2 linked regions of the Homo sapiens genome follow. The protein of the gene in region 2 purifies or fractionates together with the protein of the main gene of each other region. This does not show direct contact. Each region holds a gene or a part of one and is shown on either strand. Other genes may lie near its edges.

Evidence for each region. Proteins that work in one complex are often made in the same cells at the same time.
Region 1: the proteins of GDI2 (region 2) and RAB1A purify together in Homo sapiens (affinity purification with mass spectrometry; 7 studies listed by BioGRID and IntAct, with this or other methods). This does not show direct contact.

What each region holds. Positions count from the first base shown.
Region 1 is NC_000002.12:65,127,107-65,134,774, forward strand, and holds the start of RAB1A (ras-related protein Rab-1A), read right to left. Parts: upstream 3,001-7,668; 5' UTR 2,810-3,000; coding exon 2,787-2,809; intron 1-2,786. UniProt on the Homo sapiens protein: The small GTPases Rab are key regulators of intracellular membrane trafficking, from the formation of transport vesicles to their fusion with membranes.
Region 2 is NC_000010.11:5,782,401-5,789,469, forward strand, and holds part of GDI2 (rab GDP dissociation inhibitor beta), read right to left. Parts: intron 3,651-7,069; coding exon 3,452-3,650; intron 2,874-3,451; coding exon 2,742-2,873; intron 1-2,741. UniProt on the Homo sapiens protein: GDP-dissociation inhibitor preventing the GDP to GTP exchange of most Rab proteins. By keeping these small GTPases in their inactive GDP-bound form regulates intracellular membrane trafficking.

The DNA of each region.
Region 1 (7,668 bases), on a different chromosome or scaffold from region 2:
CCAGAAAAAATATAAAAACTGTTTCTGGGTTTGATCCCTTTGAGGTCATTAGTCTTCAAAAGAAAGGATGATTTGACACCGTATTTACTTATTAATTACTGTCCTTGTCATTTATGAGCCATTCCTCCTTCTTCTCCCCCTTGAAAATTCCTAGTCACTCCCTCTGTTCCTCCAAATCTAATTGCTGATAAATCCCTTTCAGGTCTCTCTTCTATAAAGTCTTCCAAAACCCAGATAGCCAACCACAACCCACCATCCCCCTGAAATCTTGTTGCTCTCATCCATGCCACACATCTGGAATTTGCTATATCTACTGGTATTTGACATGTATAAAATCTATTTCTGCCGGGCGCGGTGGCTCACGCCTGTAATCCCAACACTTTGGGAAGCTGAGGCGGGCGGATCACTTCGGGAGTTTGAGACCAGCCTGACCAACATGGAGAAACCCCGTCTCTACCAAAAATACAAAATTAGCCGGGAGTGGTGGCACATGCCTGTAATCCCAACTTCTCGGGAATCTGAGGCAGGAGAATCACTTGAACCCAGGAGGCGGAGGTGGCGGTGAGAGGAGATTTGCGCCATTGCACTCCAGCCTGGGCAACAAGATTGAAACTCCGTCTCAAAACAATAAATAATTTTTTTTTTGAGACGGAGTCTTGCTCTGTCGTCCAGGCTGGAGTGCAGTGGCCAGATCTTGGTTCACTGCAAGCTCCACCTCCCGGGATCACGCCATTCTCCTGCCTCAGCCTCTCGAGTAGCTGGGACTACAGGTGCCCACCACCACGCCCGGCTAATTTTTTTGCATTTTTAGTAGAGACGGGGTTTCACCGTGTTACCGAGGATGGTCTCGATCTCCTGACCTCGGGATCCGCCCGCCTCGGCCTCCCAAAGTGCTGGGATTACTGAGGTGAGCCACCGCGCCTGGCCTATATCTAAACTTCTTAAGCGCAAGGATTATATTCCTAAATCCTGGTACTAATAGAATGCCTTTCATGAAAATGATGCATACCACCTGAAGAATGCTCACACGGTTTTTCAAATTCTTTTATATACATTTGAATTTCACCACTACCCTGACAGGAATAATGACTCCAATTATCCTATTTTACAAAAGGGAAAAAAAATTCAGAGGCTGAGTAACTTGTCAAAGTTCTCAACTAATCTTGAAGATTTATTTACACTAATAAACATATATATAGCAAATTCAGAAAATTTCCTGAACAGTAGAGGTCTATAAACCTCGATAAAGCAGTAAATCCATGTTCTTTATTGTTACCAAGAAAACTACTAAATTAAGAACCTCAAGTTCACCTCCGTTCAACTGTGCAAAACCAACTTTGTCCTTGGAGCCCTTGAAAAAAAATTTTTTTTAAACTGTCAACACAGCAAATGTCACTACAAGAACACTACCCTCAACTTCTAAAACATGAAATTCTAATAAAATACTACGGTTTCTGTTTAGTGCAAAAGATTTCAGCTTCAAGCCACACTATTACAAAACTTGTAAGCATTTTGCAAGAGCCATGTGACACACATATGACAGTCAGCTAAACTGGTGGGTGGACCTTTTAGGGGAAAATGTCTAGCAGTAATTGACCAAACCAGCAAATAAACTCAACTTTTACAACAAATACTGATGTTCCCCCATCCCTCAAAGGCCTTTGACACTGAAAAGGAATACCAATTCGGTCTCTTCCAATTATTCATTACTTTACATGCATGTAAACTGTAGAGGAAATTTTTAAAGGGCCATTGAGGAGAGCCCAACAAACTCTACCCAAGGGAAGTGAACACCAGTTCCCAGGAAAGGTGCCAGGTGTGTCACATCTGCTGTGGTGACTTCTTGAGTAAGCAAGAAAAAGAAATGCATTAACTTTTCATGACACGTCATGGAACCTCATTCCCTATCTGCAAGCATCCAAGCAGGTAATCCAAAACCTACATACAGATCTATCATAGGTCCCGTTCGTTTCTCTTTCAACTTGACAGCAAGCTTCCTTTAATCTGCGAGTATCAAAAAGACATTTCTTGGCTTTAGTTTTTTTTTTTTCCCTTGACCCACAGAAGACAAAATGACTTAGGTGTCCTCTTTAAAAAAAAAAAAAACAAAATTCTCACAAATGCCCAGGTTTTTATAGGAGGGCAATGGACCCGGCGAGCTCTTAAACAACTCCTCCAAGACACAACTCAAAAAGAGAACTAATAAATGTTCAGTTGCTTCTCACCATCTACTCATTCCCCTCAATCCCACGCAGTCCCGAAAAGCATCCATATTACCTGAAACCTGGCGGGGAGGATGGAAGGAGAGAGAGCCAACAAGCTCAGGATTTACAAGTAAAGCTGGTTTCTACCCCGAAGATCCTGACAGCTCCGCAGAGTGCGGGCGCAGGGTCTGACAGTGCCCTCTAGAAGGGCTCTCCCACCCCATCCCCTCCCCTTAGAGACAAGTCCTCCTTCAAAAGTCACTGCCTCCGAGAGAAGATACCCCTTCACACCGCCCCAGGCCCCTCGGCAGGCTTCCTCAGCACCCGCCCCGCAGTCAGGCCCTCTAACCTGACCCGGTCCAGGCCCGGGCGGCTCACCCCTCCGGCCCGACCCCTCCCCCGCGCGGCCGCCCCTCCGCGTCAGACAATGGGGCCCGACTCCCGGCCGCCAGCCTCTCCTGACCCATCACCCTCGCCTCACCCCAGCCGATGCCCCGACTTCTGCCCCAACCCTCCTCGACCCCTTTAAGATCCCCCAAGCTGGCCCACGGACCCAGCCGACCGGTGCTCTCCTGAACTCACTATTCGGGATTCATGCTGGACATGTCACTGCAGCTGCCGCCGCCGCCACCGCCGCCCTTGCTGCCGCAGCCGCCGCCCTGACTCTCCGCGCCACGGGTAATCGAAAGAAAGGAATGAGATAGGCTGTTCCGGGAGAGCAAACGTCTTCCCCTACTCCGTCCCCTAGAACACAATCAGCAGCCGCCGCCACTCAGCTATCGCTTCCACCCAAAATGGCCGCCGGCGAACCAGGAAATAGGGAAGCCTTAGACCGAGGGGCCTTTACACGGCCCAGAGGGCGGCCGCACCGCCTGGCATGCCGGGAAAGGGAGTCGCGAGCGCGGCTACGCGAGCTGAGGACAGACAGTGCGACGCAAGGCCAGGACTCAGCTTCCCGCCAAGCGCCGCGCCTCTGGGGCATGCGTACCTGAAGGGTTGTCGCCCGCCCCATTCCCCACTCCCTCACCTCCCCACCCTCGGCCCCTCCCTGCTCCCCTCCCCTCTGACTCGCTGGCTAGGACTTCGCTCGGACTCCCCCTGGCGGATTGGCTAAGGCCGAGCTGCCCTAGTGATGTCATCAGTGAGACGTGGCAGCCGGGCGAGTCAGCGCCCCACGGGGGAGGGGGCGGAGAGGGGCGGAGGGTGGTGCCGGCGGCCGACGGAGGCTGGGGGTCGGGGGAGGCAAGGGACCGGGGGGAGTGGTCAAACCGGAGGGACTGCCGGGGGTGCGGGGGCGGGGAGGGGGCCGGGGTACGAGCGTGTCGGCTCCTGCCTCCGTTGCGGCTGTTGCTGACCTGACCAGCTTGAGGCTTGCGCCACCCTGGTGGCGCTGGTTGGGGGCTGGTAGGAGGACGTCCGCTCTAAGAACAGAAGGGAAGTCAAGGGGCTCCCTGGACGGCACGGAGCGGTTCTTCTCGTCACTCACCCATCCCCACCTGGGTTCGGTCATCGTCCATTGTTGGCCCCGCGCACTACCATTTTCTTCTTAGATTTCTTCCCATTCTTACTGTGCCCCGCTCTTAACTCGTCAGCCTGGCTATTGCAGTAGTCTCCAAATGGACTCTACCTCTCTCTCTCCTCTCCGCCCCAGCCCATTTGCACACACAGTCGGATGTATCTTTCTGAGACAGCACCTGCATCGTGACCCCACAACCTTCAATGGCTCCACATCCCATGGATGGGAGGGACACAGCCCAGAGCCAGCCTAAAATCCAATTCCTACCTTCGTCCCGGCCTTCAGGTTGAATTGTAATGTATTATCTTTTAGTTGCTACTAACCCTGAGCCATTCTGCAAGACTGGAAAATAATAAGCAATAAAAATAGGCAATTCATCACTATATAGTGCCTACAATTTCTGGGAGTAATATTAACTCATTTTTAAAAAACCTATGGCCTTAACAGCTCTCTTTAATCAGCTCAGGAATTTAAATCTCCGCTAAACTTTAACACATTATCTTGAGTTATTTAATTACAAAGGGCATAGTGTAATACATTGTCCAAAGTTTATCTTCCAACTTCTAAGAACTAAGAAAATTGTCTCCTGAGACTTACTGCAGAATCACTTTAAATTCCTACAACGCCAAAATATAGAAAGAAGGCACTTATTTCTACCCATACACTAATTACACCCCTTAGCCCTCAAATTCTGCCATGGGCCTTAGTTGATGAACTTATCAAAAGTTACCCGAGTTTGGTTTCTGAAATGAACATGTTGGTTTCTGAAATGAACACGGTCACCACCCCAGGAATACCCTGAATGGTTCAGTAATAGGCACCAAAAAGTGTTCGTTACCCTGGACTCTAAAGCCCATTAAAAAAAAAAAAAGCTTATTTTGATTTCAAATAAAAACTCAGAAAACTGGCCAGGCTCGGTGGCTCATGCCTGTAATCTCAGGAATTTGAGAGGCCAAAACGGACAGATCACGAGGTCAGGAATTCAAGACCAGCCTGGCCAACATGGTGAAACACTGTCTCTACTAAAAATACAAAAATTAGCCAGGCATGGTGGCGCGTGCCTGTAATCCCAGCTACTCGGGAGGCTGAGGCAGGAAAATTGCTTGAACCCGGGAGGCGGAGGCTACAGTGGGCCGAGAGGCCACTGCACTCCAGCCTGGGCGACAGAGCAAGATTCTGTCTTGAGGGGAGAAAAAAAATCTCAGAAAACTGTGACCTGAGTCACTAGTAAAGGCACACACACACACACACACACACACACACCCCCAAAAAACCCTCAGAAAACTGTCCAGAACTCGTCCTCAGCCAAAAATACAATCTGTCCTCCCCTGGGAAGTATACTCCCAAACTTCCTTTAATTAACTATTTTCTTTCCCAACAAAGAATTACCCCCTGCCAGGCGCAGTGGCTCACGCCTGTAATCCCAACACTTTGGGAGGCCAAGGCGGGCAGATTATGAGGTCAGGAGATCGAGACCATCCTGGCCAACATGGTGAAACCCCGTCTCTGCTAAAAATACAAAAATTAGCTGGGCGTGGTGGCGTGTGGCACGTGAGATTACAGAATCTCAGCTACTCGGGAGGCTGAGGCAGGAGAATGGCTTGAACCAGGGAGTCAGAGGTTGTAGTGAGCCGAGATCGCGCCACTGCACTCCAGCCTGGCAACAGAGCGAGACTCAGTCTCAACAACAACCACCAAAAAAAAAAAAATTACCTCCTAGTAGCTTTTAATCTAAGTGACAGGATAGCTGTAAGCGTTGAATAAACACAATGTAAAGCATATAGTACAATGGCTTTGGGACCCTTGGTAAATGTTAATTACTTTTCTCTGTAGGAGAGCAAAAAAATGACTTCCCTCCACCCTGCTAGGTTCCTTGGCTAGTTTATGAACTAAATTAACCTAAGACAGATTAACAGGAGAAAATCATATTTGATTAAGTACATATGCATGGGAGTTCCTCAAAATAAGAGACTCCAAGAAGGGTCTGATGATTGAAGCATCCTGAGCTACAGAAAAGAATACGGCTTGGTGGCCGGGTGCAGTAGCTCACGCCTCTAATCCCAGCACTTTGGGAGGCCAAGGCGGGTGGATCACGAGGTCAGGACATCAAGATCATCCTGGCTAACACGGTGAAACCCAGTCTCTACTAAAAATGCAAAAACAAAATTACCTGGGCGTGGTGGCGGCTGCCTGTAGTCCCAGCTACTCGGGAGGCTGAGACAGAAGAATGGCGTGAATCCGGGAGGCGGAGCTTGCAGTCAGCTGAGATGGCACCACTGCACTCCAGCCTGGGCTACAGAGCGAGAGTCCATCTCAAAAAAAAAAAAGAATAGGGCTTGGTGCCGGGCGCGGTGGCTTACGGCTTACGGCTGTGATCCCAGCTCTTTGAGAAGCCAAGGTGGGTGGATCACTAGAGGTCAAGAGTTCGAGACCAGCCTGGCCAACCTGGCGAAACCCTGTCTCTACTAAAAACACAAAAAATTGGGCAGGCACAGTGGCTCACGCCTGTAATCCCAGCACTTTGGGAGGCCAAGGCAGGTGGATCATTTGAGGAGTTCAAGACCAGCCTGACCAATATGGTGAAAACCCGTCTCTACTAAAAATACAAAAATCAGCTGGGCATGGTGGCACATACCTGTGATCCCAGCTGCTCGGGAGGCTGAGGCAGGAGAATCGCTTGAACCTGGGAGGCGGAGATTGCAGTGAGCCGAAACTGTGCCACAGCACTCCAGCCTGGGCAACAGAGCGAGACTCAATCTCAAAAAAAAAAAAATTGAAAAAATTAGCCAGGCATGGTGGCGGGTACCTGTAATCCTAGCTACTCAGGTAGCTGAGGCAGGAGAATATCTTCAACCCGGGAGGTAGAGGTTGCAGTAAACTGAGATCACACCACTGTACTCCAGCCTAGGTGACAGAGCAAGACTCCATCTCAAAAAAAAAAACAAAACTGGGGCTTGGGGCCTTCGGAGAGGTAATGATAAGCTACAGGAGGGCAAGAGGGGAAATGCATGGTAAAGAAAGATTGTCCTGCCATGCAGATAAAAAGTCTCTCAGGTAATAAAAGTTATCTTGAGGCAGCCCTCTCTCTGATATAGATACGTTACTAATGTAGATTTCCTTTGTAGACATAAACTTATTTTACAAAAGGACAGCTTTTCAGAGCTACTCCTGTGTCTACAGTTTCTTAGAATAACCAGCTCAAAATATGCCACCAAAGAAGAATATTTTAGGAGAGCATATTCTGGTCCCCCAGAGTGATATTTGAGGTGGTATGTCCTGGTCCCCAACATCTACTTCTCTCAGCTTCTCTGAAAGTCTTAAGTGTACCTGCTGTGTACCAAGGACAGAAAGCCTCATAGCTTAGCTTCCGTGTTGTAGAATATTATGCGAAGAGGTCAGAGGCAGCTTAGCCTGGGAATGGTAGGTGGGTGTTTTCTACCCCCACTGAAATTTATGTGCAATTACATTAAGACTTCCTTTCCAAATTTAAAGTGGCTAAAAATTAAACTTTTTAAAAGTTTTGCTGACTCAAACTTTAATATATATATTTTCGTGTGTGTTTTTTTGTTGTTGTTGTTGTTGTTGTTTTGAGATGGAGTCTCACTCTGTCTCCCAGGCTGGAGTGCAGTGGCACGATCTCAGCTCACTGCAACCTCCCCTCTCCCGGGTTCAAGCTGTTCCCTGGCTTCAACCTCCCGAGTGGCTAGGATTACAGGTGCGCACCACCACATCCAGCTAATTTATTGTATTTTTAGTAGAGACCAGACGGGCTTTCACCATGTTGGCCAGGCTGGTCTCGAACACCTGACCTCAGGTGGTCAGCCCGTCTCAGCCTTCCAAAGTGCTGGGATTACAGGCGTGAGCTCCTGCGCCCAGCTCAAATTTTAATATATATTTTATGTTTAGGTTTTTAGAAGTAGTTACATTTCTAGCTCAAGTGAATAACTC
Region 2 (7,069 bases):
ACTGTTTTACAGTTTCTTATGAATTCAGACTTCTATCTGCCACATTAGTCAGCAATTTCACTCCCAGTATTTACCCAAAAGGAAATGAAAACCTATATCCCCACAGAAAGTGTTTTACATAAAAATTTCACAGTGCCTTCATTCATAATAGCCAAAAACTGAAAACTAACTAGATGTCCACCAAAAGGAGAATTATATGCTCATATAATTCATACAAAGGAATTCTACTCAACAATTAAAAAAAAAGAATTGGCCAGGCACAATGGCTCACACCTGTAATCCCAGCACATTGGGAGGCCAAGGTGGGTGGATCACTTGAGGTCAGGAGTTCAAGACCAGACTGACCAACATGGTGAAACCCCATCACTACTAAATATAAAAAATTAGCCGGATGTGGTGGTGCATGCCTGTAATCCCAGCTCCTTGGGAGGCTGAGGCAGGAGAATCACTGGAACCCAGGGGGTGGAGGTTGCAGTGAGCTGAGACTGCACCACAGCACTCCAGCCTGGGCAACAAGAGTGGAACTCCATCTCCAAAAAAAAGAATTACTGACACATGCATCAATATGGATGAATCTCAAAAAATGAAAAAGACACAAATGAGAACATATTGTATTATTCCTTTTACATGAACTTTGAAAACAAGCAAAAGTAATCTATAGTGACAGAAATCACAGAGGTGGTTGCTGGGGATGGGGGGCAGTATTCATTATGAGGTGACACAAGGGAACTTTATGGGGTGAGGAAAATGTTCTATACCTTCACTCAGGTTTTAGTTAAACCCAGGACAGGGATAGGTCTATAAATTTATCAAACTGATTTTTTTTAAAATATATATAGTTATAAAATAAAAAATATAAGAATAGCTACTTCTGCTCGCTTCTGGTGTCCATTTACATGAAATATATTTTTCCACCCCTTTACCTTAAATTTGAGTCCTTTTGTGTCTGGTGAATCTCTTGAAGACAGCAGATACTTGGTTGATGAGTTCTTATCCATTCTGCTATTCTGTATCTTTAAAGTGGAGCATGTAGGCCATTTACATTCAACATTAGTATTGAGATTTGAGGTACTATTCTATTCATCGTGCTATTTGTTTGCCTGAACACCTTGTTTTTTTTCTTCATTGTGTTATTGTTTTATAGGTCCTGTGTGATTTATGCTTTAAGGAGATACAATTTTGGTATTTTGAGAATTTGTTTCAAGATTTGGAGCTCCTTTTAGCAGTTCTTGTAGTGCTGGCTTGGTAGTGGCAAATTCTCTCAGCACTTGTTTGTGTGAAAAAGACTACTTTCCTTCATTTATGAAGCTCTGTTTCACTGGATACAAAATTACTGGCTGATAACTTAAGGAGGCTCAAGATAGGATCCCAATCCCTTCTAGCTTTTAGAGTTTCTGCTGAGAAATCTGTTAATCTGATAGGTTTTCCTTTATAGGTTACCTGAGGCTTTTGACTCACAGCTCTTAAGATTCTTTCCTTCATCTTGACTTTAGTTAACCTGATGACTATGTGCCTAGGTGATGATCTTTTTGTGATGAATTTCCCAGGTGTTCTTTAAGCTTCTTGTATTTGGATGTCTAGATCTCTAGCAAGGCCGGGGAAGTTTTCCTCAATTAATCCCTCAAATTTGTTTTCCAAACTTTTAGATTCTTCTTCTTCCTTGGGAACACCAATTATTCTTAGGCTTGGTTGTTTAACAAACTTATTGGAGGCTGCGTTCATTTTTTTAAATTCTTTTTTGTCTTTGTCAGATTGGGCTAATTCAAAAGCCTTGTCTTCGAACTCTGAAATTTCTTTCTTCTACTTATTCAATTCTATTGCTGAGACTTTCCAGTGCATTTTGCATGTCTCTAAGTGTGTCCCTTGATTTTCAGAAGTTGTGATTATTTATTTATGCTATTTTCCTGGAAATTTTTCCATTCATATCCTGTATCACTTTTTTTGTTTTGCTAAGTTGGACTTCACCTTTCTCTCGTGCCTCCTTGATTGGCGTAATAATGACCTTGTGAATTCTTTTTCTGGCAATTCAGAGATTTTTGTCTTGGTTTAGATCCATTGCTGGTAAGCTAGTGTGACCTTTTCAGAGTGTCAAAGAACCCTGTTTTGTCATATTACCCCAGTTGTTTTTCCAGTTCCTTCTCATCTGGATAGACTATGTCAGAGGGAAGATCTGGAACTCAAGGGCTGCTGTTCAGATTCTTTTGTCCCACAGGGATGCTCCCTTGATGTGGTGCTCTCCCCTTTCCCCTAGGGATGGGGCTTCCTGAGAGCCAAACTGCAGTGATTGTTATTTCTCTTCTTGATCTAGCCGCCCAGTGGAGATAATCAGGCTCTAAGCTGGTACTGGAGAGTGTCTGCAAAGAGTCCTGTGATGTGATCTGTCTCCAGGTCTCTCAGGCGTGGATACCAGCACTTACTCTGGTGGAGGTAACAGGGGTGTGAAGTAGATTCTGTGAAGGTCCTTGGTTGTATTTTTGTTAAGTGCGCTGGTTTTGTATTGGCTGGCCTCCAGCCAGGAGTTGGCACTTACAAGAGCACATCAGCTACAGTTGTATAAAACTGGATTTTTTTTAACTGAAGATCCATGCATATCATTATATGTTAATTTTATTTCAATAAAAATAAAAAGCATCTTATTACTCATAGACTGATCTCATCTCATTATTTAAACTATATCTCATATACACATTATGTTGAAGATGAGGTTTTGGATCACTGAGGTTTTAAACACAGGCTCTTACCTTGCAAATCCTTGGGGCAGTTCTCCAAGGCCATAGAGTGGATAAAGGTATGGGCTTTTGCCATATCTTGCCAAAGATTCACTGTAAAGTTTAATTCTATTAATGGTTTCATAACACGGTTGATCTAAGTAACTGGAAGAAAGGAAATGAGTATTAGGAAAGGGCTTTAGTTTTCATTCATGGTGTTCAATTTATAATTTTTTTTGAAGCGATTTCAATCCGCTATCTTCTTTTTTGTTTTTTTGTTTTTTGAGACAGGGTCTCACTCTGTCGCCCAGACTGGAGTGCAGTGGTGCAATCTCGGCTCCCCACAACTTCCACCTCCCAGGCTCAAGTGATTCTTCTGCCTCAGCCTCCCAAGTGGCTGGAATTACAGGGACGCACCACTACCGCCCAACTAATTTTTGCATTTTTAGTAGAGAGGGGGTTTCACCATGTTGGCCAGGCTGGTCTTGAACTCCTGACCTCAAATGATCCACCCAACTTGGCCTCCCAAAGTGCTGGGATCACAGGCGTGAGCCACCACACCTGGCCCACTACCTTTATATTTAAATCACTTAAAAGGTCCCAACACTAATTTCAACTAGAACCTCTTCATTCATAGTGCAATATGGCTAAGTATTTGTTTTGTTAGAATTTCCACTTGGAAGACTTGGGAAATTTAGTGAGAATTTCAAGAAAAATACAAATCTAAAAACCAAAATACTTACTCATCAGTTCTGTAAAGTGCAAGAGCATGACCAGTAAAATCTATAACGTCTTGACCCAAATCAAATTTCTTATACACATCTCGCATTGTGGTCTTCTTAGGATCAATGCCTTCAAAAGTTCTTGGATCTTTTTCATCGAAGTTGGCAACATACACTAGGAATTTCCTGAAGCGACGTTTTTCAAACAATCCCATTAGGCCTAAATAAAAAAGAATTTTTCAAAAAGCACACTCACAATCAGACATTGAGGAGAACGAAGTATGAGAGCAAAGTTTAAACATGCCTTGTTATCAACTGCGGAATGCAGGATGCAATTTTTTTTTTTTTTTTTTTTTTTGAGACAGAGTCTTGCTCTGTCGCCTAGACTGGAGTGCAATGACGCAATCTCAGCTCACTGCAACCTCTGCCTCCCGTGTTCAAGCGATTCTCCTGTCTCAGCCTCCCGAGTAGCTGGGATTATAGGCAACCGCCATTACGCCCAGCTAATTTTTGTACTTTTGGTAGAAACAAGGTTTCACCATGTTAGGCTGGTCTCAAACTCCTGACCTCAGGTGATCCGCCCACCACGGCCTCCCAAAGTGCTGAGATTACAGGCATGAGCCACCGCGCCTAAAATGCAGGATGCAATTTAAGATATGGGAGTTTGGACAGCATGGCTTCCAGTTTCACAACACCTTAAACTGACACGATTATAACAGGTTACTTATAAAGTCTTCAATTCTACCATACAATTACAAGTAATTAAAACTACTACTTAACTGAATGAAAAATGTCAAATTATGTTTCTTACTAGGTACAAGGTAAATGTGACTCTGAACAAGTATCCATGAAGCCACCCATCTGAAGAGTCTCCCTTTGACAACTCTGATCTACACTCAGCCAATTGCCTAAATTCTGAATGCTCTTGCTTTTCCGCCTCTGTATGCTAAGATACAACCGGGCACTTAATGATAACAGCTTAAGATAACAAGAACAAATTGACCTCGATAAAATTTCGATGCTGCTGCTACTGCTGCTAGTCACTTATTTTACTGAAGTCCTACATAAGCAACCAATTCGCTGCATTTTACACTAAAAAACAGATGAAGAAGCTACAAATTACCACTTTATAAATCCTCAGCTTTTATTACTAGGCTGTATTTCAACTAATCATAGATGATAGACAAATAGCCAACAAAAAAGAAAATTTTCTGATTTTATCTCCCTTCTCCCCCCATTCCTAAGCTGTACAGCTATTTTTAAAATACAACTACAGTTTTAAAAACAAACTCTCAAATGTTTCTATTGACAGCTTAATGTTTTGATAGATTTAATATTACATCCAAGATCATTTTCCAGCCAACAAAACTGAAAATTAAAACCATGAGGCTGGTCAGGTCGTAGTGGCTCACGCCTATAATCCCAGCACTTTGGAAGGCTGAGGAGGGTGGATCGCTTGAGGTCAGGAGTTCAAGACCAGCCTGACCAACATGGTGAAACCCCATCTCTACTAAAAATACAAAATTAGCTGGGTGTGGTGGCGCACGCCTGTAATCCCAACTACTTGGAAGGCTGGAGCAGGAGAATCGCTTGATAAACCCAGGAGTCAGAGATTGCACTGAGCCGAGATTGCACCATTGTACTCCAGCCTGGGCAACAAGAGTGAGACTCCGTCTCAAAAAAAAAAAAGAAACATGAGGCTATTAATGACAACTGACTACATTTAATTTTTTAAAATTAAGATTTACAATTCAGCCTTTTAAATGGACAGAATGTACACACAGTAAAGGCATAAGGCTGAATAGAAATATCCTATTACCACATCAGCACTATACTTAAGACACAAGTGTAGTTGTAAGAGCTGGGTATAAGACAGGCAAAAGGAAACATGAATCACTATTTCAATGCACTTAAAACTTAGGTATCATATTCCGGTCGGCACAGCCTGTCAGAACTTAAAGCTATTACTAACAGTTATTTTGGAGTATCTCCCAACTTTTGTTTATTTAATAGAAACCTGAGTTGCTGTTACCAACTTTTGTTTTAATCAAAATAAAAATCTATCATGTTTCCTTCTCTTTCCTCTCCTTTATTTTCCTCCATTACCTGATCCTTACCCAGAGAGGGATAGAAATCAGTGCCACTCCTGTTTTACACAGCACAGTAGAGACGTCCTGGCTGTTTTTCCATCCCTTAATTCCATGTTGCTATGCATGGCGCCAAATAGTGATCTCAATGACTAGCTGTTAACAGCATGAGAACCAGATATAATTGTATTACAAATACTTCAAACACCCAGTGCTCATTCTGAAAAACTCCTAATTGAAAAAGTTCAAATCAATAACGTGTTTCCTACTGTGTTTTTTTTTTTTCCATAGAAACAAGGTCTCGCCATGTTGCCCAGGCTGGTCTCAAACTCCCAGGCTCCTAAAGTGTGGAATCACAGGTGTGAGCCACTGCACCTAGTCCCTACTAGGTAGATAATTTTTTACAACTACTATTTATCTATGCTGATGCCTTCCCAGATCACTTTATTTAAAGCGTCCTTCTCACACTCCCTCCTTCCTCTTTCCCCCACAGCAATGGATCACCATGGGATATGCCTTTCTGTATTTACAGTTGTCCCTTGAATAACACATCTGAACTGCCACTTTTTATGTAGATCAGAGGTGTCCAATTTTTTGGCTTCCCTGGGCCACGTTGGAAGAAAAAGAATTGCCTTGGGCCACACATAAAATACACTAACGATAGCTAATGAGCTTTAAAAAAATTGTGAAAAAAAATCTCATGTTTTAAGAAAGTTAACAAATTTCTGTTGGGCTGCATTCAAAGCTACCCTGGACCACATGCAGCCCATAGGCCACAGACAGGACAAGCTTGATGTAGATTTTTTCTTGTCAATAAATGTACTGAAAAAATTTTTGGAGGTTTGCATGTTTTTTTTTTTTTAAAAGGAGTCTCACTCTGTCGCCCAGGCTAGAGTGCGCAGTGGCGCGATTTCGGCTCACTGCAACCTCTGCCCCTGAGGTTCAAGCAATACTCCCACCTAAGCATCCCGAGTAGCTAGGATTAAAGGCATGCACCATCAGACCTGGCTAATTTTTTTTTGTATTTTTAGTAGAGATGGGGTTTCACCATGTTGGACAGGCTGGTGTCAAACTCCTGACCTCAAGTGATCCGCCTGCCTCAGCCTCCCAAAGTGCTGGGATGACAGGCATGAGCCACTATGCCCAGCCAGGTTTGTTTTTTCTTTCAGTTCTACGTTTTATTTTACTTGATTTTTTTTTTTTCCTTTTTGAGATGAGATCTCTGTCACCCAGACTAGAGTGCAGTGGCGCAACCACAGCTCACTGCAGCCACCAACTTCCTGGGCTCAAGCAATCTTCCTGCATCAGCCTCCTGAGTAGCTGGGACTACAGGGTATTCAGCTAATTTTTCTTCTATTTCTTGTAGATACAGGGGTCTTACTATGTTGCCCAGGCTGATCTCGAACTCTCGGGCTCAAGTGATCCACCCACCTCAACCTCCCAAAGTGCTAGGATTACAGCCATGAGCCACAGTAGCCGGCCAAATGATTTTTTTTTTAAGAGATAGGGTCTTGCTATATAAGGATATATCGTCCAGGCTAGAGGTGCAGTG